Linked DNA regions of Homo sapiens. The protein of the gene in region 1 interacts with the protein of each later gene in a pairwise test. Each region holds a gene or a part of one and is shown on either strand. Other genes may lie near its edges.

Region 1 (3,500 bases):
GCATTGTCTGAAAGCTCTTCCAGTGATTCTGCTGTGCAGCCAGAGTTGGGAACTTCTCTTTGGTCTCTCTGCATTCCCCCTCAAGGCTGGGTCTGCACCCTCAGAATCAAAGGGACCTCGAATAATGATCACGATGGTCTAGGCCCCAGGCCTTGCTAAGCCTCATGATTCTCAATTAGAAATGAAAATGTTTTGGTTTAAGGAACACGGGGACTATCTGAGTTTTTCTTCTCCTTTTGCAAATCTAGACACAGCCCAAGTCTCTGGCATCCAGATCTTACCTCTAGGTCTTATTCCCTGTCTTCTTAAAAGAAAGGTGAAACTTTCTAAATGTAATTTAAATCTAAGTCTTCAGGCATTAAACCTTAAGTAAATCTACCCACATGACACAAATTTTTAAGTTTAAGAAAATTAAAGGAGAGTAATTTATTCAGTTTATCCTTTGTGCCATCCTACAGCTTTGGAATCGTTTACCTCCCTAATCTGCAAAGGTTCAGAAAAGAAAACATAGCGACAAAGTGGCATTTACTTAATAGATTCTAAAAAGGCTTCCGTCAAGGATTTAAATGGTTGCAATTTGTAGTTTGCCATTTCAGTAGTAAGGAGCTTAAGTGACAAAACAAATCATTACAATTTCATATGCATATTTTCTTAAGTGCTAACAAATTCCTCCTCGGAGAAAAGAATCCGAACATCATAAAGTAACCTTTCTTTCTGAGCTCCTTATTTAGGAGATGTTAACCTCCTCCAGGTTAATAAGAACACAGATTATCGTAGTGGAACAAGGTGAGTCCAATGCTTACTGACCTGAGCAAAATACTTCCTTGGGGTAAAACCAAATTCAGTGCTTAAAAAGATGCTGTTTAGCCCGGCGCGGTGGCTCACGCCTGTAATCCCAGCACTTTGGGAGGCTGAGGCGGGCAGATCACCTGAGGTCGGGAGTTTGAGACCAGCCTGACCAACATGGAGAAACCCCATCTCTACTAAAAATACAAAAATTAGCCAGGCGTGGTGGCACATGCCTGTAATCCCAGCTACTAGGGAGGCTGAGGCAGGAGAATCGCTTGAACCTGGGAGGTAGAGGTTTCGGTGAGCCGAGATCATGCCATTGCACTCCAGCCTGGGCAACAAGAGTGAAACTCCATCTCAAATAAAAAGATGCTGTTTTTCAGAAAGTAGCTCACATTACTTTAATGTGATCTTGGGTGACTGATATATCTAAGTATTAATTAAGCTTTTTATATCAAAACCACATCACTGAATATTAAAATTATACTAGAATTCACTAAATGGCATCCTGAACAGCTTCTGAGTGACGACCTTCCGGACTACCATCCTGATGAAAGGGCAGGAAAGCCAGTCACGACATGGCTTAGATCAAGTGGTGATGTCCCTTGACAAGAGGGAAAACTTAATACAATGATTTATTTCTTGTACCTGTGACAAAAACAATTCTGTTTTCCCTCAATTGTGAAGATCAGAAAATACAGCTGCTATAATGAAGACGTAGACTTCCAGACTTCTATAGAACGCTTCATGGACTTTAAGACCACACTAATGAAACAGCTTAGGCTTGTACCATGCCTTATAAAGTTCATTGACAGCTACTACATCATTCTATTTTGACAACAGCCCTGTGAGTTAGATATGAATTCTCCATTTACAGACGTGAAATAGGAAGCTCAGATGCGCCACACAGCTCCAAAAGCAGAAATTGGCATCCAATCCCAAATTACAAATCCACTGCTCTTCCGTCCCTCAACTTGCCTGATGGCAGTGAAAACAAAAAGGAGTCACATAAACAAAGACGACAGAACACGGCGGATTTCTGAGCTTCCGCATCCTGAATAGGAGAGAGAAAAGCCACAAAGCATAGCCTGGGGCTCCACATTTCTTATCTGCTTAGTGCTTGAACACTGAAGCCCATGCTTCCTAAAGGACCCCTCCATACACAGTTGTTCCCAAATTTAATTAACTGACATTTGTGAAGTACTAGGAGATCATGGAATGAAGTCTATCGAGTACATACACATAATTATATGAGCTGTATCAGTAGCAAGACAAAATATGTTTGATTTGCTAAAGGAAAAATGGATTGTAGAGAAAGCTGAAAAAACAGATACTTGAAAAGGCACAGCAAGACAGCAAGGTGAGAAGAAGGCTTTAATAAAAGCACAATGAACATTCCAACGGAAGATGTCAGATATGCATTAAAAATCAAAGGACTCATTCCGAGGCCTGATCCTTGTACCTGCTTGAATTTGCATTAATTTCCTCATGGTCTTGAGTTCTTGTAGAATGGCCTGCAACGTTGACTGGCAGTTACAAGTACAGCAGTTTGATCCAGCTGATGAATTCACCACTGGAAGTTCTCCTGAGCATGAAAGAAAAGAATGACATACTCCAAACAAACCAAAAAAAAAAAAAAAAATCATAAAGAGGTGGAGAGAAAAAAGAAAGTATCTTGGCAGGATTTTGAAGCATGTGCAATTATGATGAAGCTGTGCCTAAGGAAAACGTACCCACTAATTATCACAACCTAAATCTGGGGGTCTGACTTTATCTAATTATCCAGGCTTCCATACTGTAACGTGCGTGCTGTGGCGCGGTGCGGGAGCCCGCATGCACACACACACACAATGAGTGGGCACAGCAGGCCTCCCTATTGTCAGAGCTGTTCATCTCAAATAACAACACCTCAAAAACTCACTCGAAACACACTCATGCTAGTTCACACAAAAAAGGAGCCCTGAGGACAGCCTTGCAAAAAAAATTTGGTAGCTGTGTTTAAGAGTTCATATTAAAAATTATATGAGTTCTATTGAAAATAGTTTTGATATTAAGCACATTATTTCAAAAACAAAGAACTGTGCACACATGAAAACTTTTAGAATACTCTCTGGGTGTGGCGTTTGGGGTGGGGAAGCACAGAGGAGCAGGGATGGGAGGATATATTCGAATTGGATGCGTTCGAGGGTATTGGTGGGCTGGCTGGCTTTTCTTCAGCTTCACAAAGAAAATCTCTCTACCTCTTTTCTCCATTCCCATGTCTTATCTTTCCCTTGCCACAGCCTCTTTTGCACTGTTTAAATTTAATGCCTTTTCCTTGGTAAACCTATCTTATTCTGTTTCTCTCATAGGTAAGCAAGTATCTTCTATTGTCCTTAGAATAAAATGGGACATTTGGACATTGCTCTTACAGTGGGTTCCCTCCAGCACCTGTTCACCTGACCACCATAAAATGGAGCAGTTTAGAGACTTCCAGCGCTCACATTGTCTCACAGGCCAGCAAGGTAAGTTCCATGGTTTTGTTCCAATTATATGTTTTATTATACTTTATATACCTTAAATCCTGTAATATGCATTATTTAGGAATACTATAGAAAAATTCACCAGAGCAAAACCATGAAATACTTCAGGATAACTTAGTGATTGTAGTGGTACAATTATTTACATTCAAAATTGTAGCAAAATTGTAATGTTACAACTTTAAAATTATA
Region 2 (3,500 bases), on another chromosome or scaffold:
CCGCCTGTCTTGATCTCGTTCTCCCGAAGGTCCAGTCTCAGGAGGCGGGGGCTCTCAGCGATGAACTCCGCCACCGCCACCGCGCCTGGGGGGGCACCGCAGGGGCTGGCCACGGGCCCCACACCCGGCTGGCCGCCCGGCTGAGCCCACCAGCCCGCACCCTGGCCCGGCCCCGTACCCTACCCTCGCACGTGAGCTTGGTGGAGGCCAGCCCGAGGCGCAGCACGCTGCGGTTGCTGATGAGCCCGTTCTTGAGGTGCCGCACACCCTCGTTCCCGATGGGGTTGTGGCCCAGGTTCAGCGTCTCCAGGCTCTGAGTGTGCGGCTGGAGGGAGGGGGTGTGAGGGTGAGGAGGAGGCCGTGATGGCGGAGGAGACCCAGGAGGCCAAGTCAGGAAAGAAGCCGGGAAGAGAGCCAGGCCCGGGCGCTCCTTTTCTTTCGCGCGCCTGCGTGAACACCGGCGCCGTCCTGCCCTGCCGCAGGCCTGGCCTGAAGTCCCTCCTGTGCCTGAAGTCTCCCCAAATGCCAGGTCCCCCGTCCACTCCCAGCTCCCCAGGCACCCAGTCAGTCCCTACCCCCCACAGCCTGGGCCCCTGGCCAGGGCCTGGACCTTGAGCGCCCTGAAGCCCCCAAGGAGGGCAACTCTTATCCCGGGGTTTGAGCACACGAGTGCTCGCCCTGAGAGTCTCTGTACCTGAGTGGCTTGCTTTAAGCACCACATAAAAACTGAAAACCAGGCACGGTGACTCACTCATAATCCCAATACTTTCGGAGGCCGAGGTGGGGGGGATCACTCGAGGTCAGGAGTTCAAGACCGGCCTGGCCAACATGGTGAAACCCCGTCTGTACTAAAAATACAAAAATTAGGCCGGGCGCGGTGGCTCACGCGTGTAATCCCAGCACTTTGGGAGGCCGAGGAGGGTGGATCACAAGGTCAGATTGCGACCATCCTGGCTAACATGGTGAAATCCCCTCTCTACTAAAAAAATACAAAAAAATTAGCTGGGTGTGGTGGTGGGTGCCTGTAGTTCCAACTACTCGGGAGGCTGAGGCAGGACAATGGTGTGAACCCAGGAGGTGGGGCTTGCAGTGAGCGGAGATCGAGCCACTGCACTCCAGCCTGGGCGATTGAGGCTCCGTCTCAAAAAAAATAAAAATAAAAAATAAAAAAATTGGCTAGGCGGGGTGGCGGGCACCTGTAGTCCCAGCTACTTGGGAGGCTGAGGCAGAAGAATGGCTTGAACCCAGGAGGCGGGGGCTGGAGTGGCTGCAGTGAGCCTAGATGGCGCCACTGCACTCCAGCCTGGGTGACAGGATGAGACTCGGTCTCAAAAAAAAAAAGGAGATAATGAAAGAAGGGCTCCTCCTCAGGGAAAACAGGCACAGAAGCTGAATGAGGAAGCAGGTGGGGCTGAGTTTAAATCGTCTTGAACCTGCAGGATGGGCAGGACAGGAGCCGTCAGCTAGAGGCAACTGTGCTGAGAGCTGGAGTGGGAGGTGGCAGCGGGGACCGAGGTGCCTCCCTTCCCTGCCAGCCTGACTCACCAGTGTCATGCCCAGGAAGGCCATGCCTGTGTGCGTGAGCTGGTTGTTCCACAGCACCAGGGTCACCAGCCCCTTCCTCTGCTCCTTGAGGCCCTCGCAGATGTAGGCCAGACCTGGAGGAGGCCGGCAGTCAGAGCCCTGTCTGGGGTCCGGGTGCTTCCTGGGGAGGGGACTGCAGGGTAGGAGCAACCCCCTCTGCTTAGGACCTCCATGGAGGCCCCGCAGTCCCAGGCCTTGCCCTGCAGCCCTGCCTCGGCCTGGCACCCCTGGGCACACATCTGTGACCCCTGGGCCTGGGTGCCTGGATGACAGCCTCCACCAGATGCTTCTGATCTTTGCTCAAATGTGACCACCTCTGGCCCACCTCACCTCACAGCCAGCTCACTCCCACCCACAGTCACCACTGTCTCCCTCCAATGCAGATCCCACCATCTGACAGGCTGGAGATTTCACTCATCTTATCGTTGTCTCTCTAGACTGGAGTACAAACTCCCAAGGGCAGAGCCCTGTGTCTCCCTCCGAGCTGAGCCCAGGGGCCGACAGCCATGGCCCTTGGCAGGTGCTCAGTAGAGTGGGGTCTGGGCCTGCCACCTGGGGACACAGTGACCCACCCCACCCCTCCAGGATGCAACAGGAACGCCTCCTTTGACGGCTCCCCATTCTCTGCTCAACCCCCAGCATCAAACACCAGAGCTCCTCCCACTGCACTCACTGCTCCCGCGGTCTGGACCCTTTCCCAGGCTTCTCACAAGGCTGGTTCTGCTCCCAGCCTCCGGATGGAAGCCCAGAGGCCCCGCCCCACGGTGGTCTTCCCTCCTCTCCCATCTGAAAGCAGCCTCTAGCTGACCCTGTTATGGCAGCAACACTGCTTTCTTTTCAGATTGTAATTATTCACTTCGCCTCATCCTGCGGCTGTCAGCTGAGCTGTCTCCTCCTCCTGGAAGCCCTCCCTGGCCCCCAGACTGATCGGACCCCGCCTCTGGGCTCCACCAGCCCAGTCCTGCCCACTCTAGGTTGTCACTGTCTAGGGCGGGTCTGTCTTCCTCCTGGGAGCCCCAGCAGGACAGCGTTGGGGTGGTCTTGGCCATGTCTGTGTCCCCAGCACCACCTAGCGCAGGGCCGGGCAGAGTGGGTGCTGGGTGACGGGTGTGGGTGGGGTGGGCCACTGCACCCACCCGAGTCTAGCACGTGGTTGTTCCGGAGGTCCAGGATCTGCAGGGAGCAGTTGAACTTGAGCAGGTTACCCAGCTGGGCCGAGTCCTGCAGGCCGTTGAGCTTGTTGTCCGCCAGGTACAGCTCCCGCAGGTTCATGTTCATCTTCAGGGCCGTGGCTGGGGACGGGGAGGGGGCACGGTGACTGGGCAGGCCCCTGCCCCCCAACAGGCTGCACATCCTGCTCACCCTCCCGGGCTTGGGGCTCACCGAGCAGCATGAGGGGCCGCCCCGACAGGCTGGCGTTCTCCAAGTGCAGCACTGCCAGGCTGCTGCGGATGCGCAGGGCACGGGCCACGAAGGGCGCCGAGTGGTCCAGCAGGGGCGTGTTGCGGGCGTCCAGATACTGCAGGCAGCTCGTCTGCAGGGGCAAGAGGACAGGGGTGAGGCACTGGCTCAGGCCTGCCCCAGCACTCCCTGGCCCCAGGACCGCCCCAGCACTCCCTGGCCCCAGGACCTGTGCCCCCATGTCTCAATGAGCAACGAAGCCACAGCTGTCGTCTGGCTATGTCGCCTTGTTTTACAATGGGGGTAACTGTGGCTGGGGAGGGAAGGCTCAGCCTGGGGTCCTGTGGGTGAGCGAGGCAGGGCTGGTGGCAGCCAGGATCTCCAACTCCTGTGTGGCTGGGAGGTTACCAGATAGCCCCGTCCCGTCCCTCCACCCAGCCTTCACACAGGAGTGACGTGGGGATGGCGACCATGGCCACCTCCAAGGGGATGACATTACAGAAGGATGACATTAC

The links.
Region 2: the proteins of BEND7 (region 1) and PPP1R37 interact in binary tests that used the Homo sapiens proteins (3 or more experiments, as listed by UniProt).

The regions. Positions count from the first base shown.
Region 1 is NC_000010.11:13,494,515-13,498,014, forward strand, and holds part of BEND7 (BEN domain-containing protein 7), read right to left. Parts: intron 2,375-3,500; coding exon 2,252-2,374; intron 1-2,251.
Region 2 is NC_000019.10:45,141,679-45,145,178, reverse strand, and holds part of PPP1R37 (protein phosphatase 1 regulatory subunit 37), read right to left. Parts: intron 3,119-3,500; coding exon 2,968-3,118; intron 2,877-2,967; coding exon 2,721-2,876; intron 1,659-2,720; coding exon 1,546-1,658; intron 326-1,545; coding exon 184-325; intron 86-183; coding exon 1-85. UniProt on the Homo sapiens protein: Inhibits phosphatase activity of protein phosphatase 1 (PP1) complexes.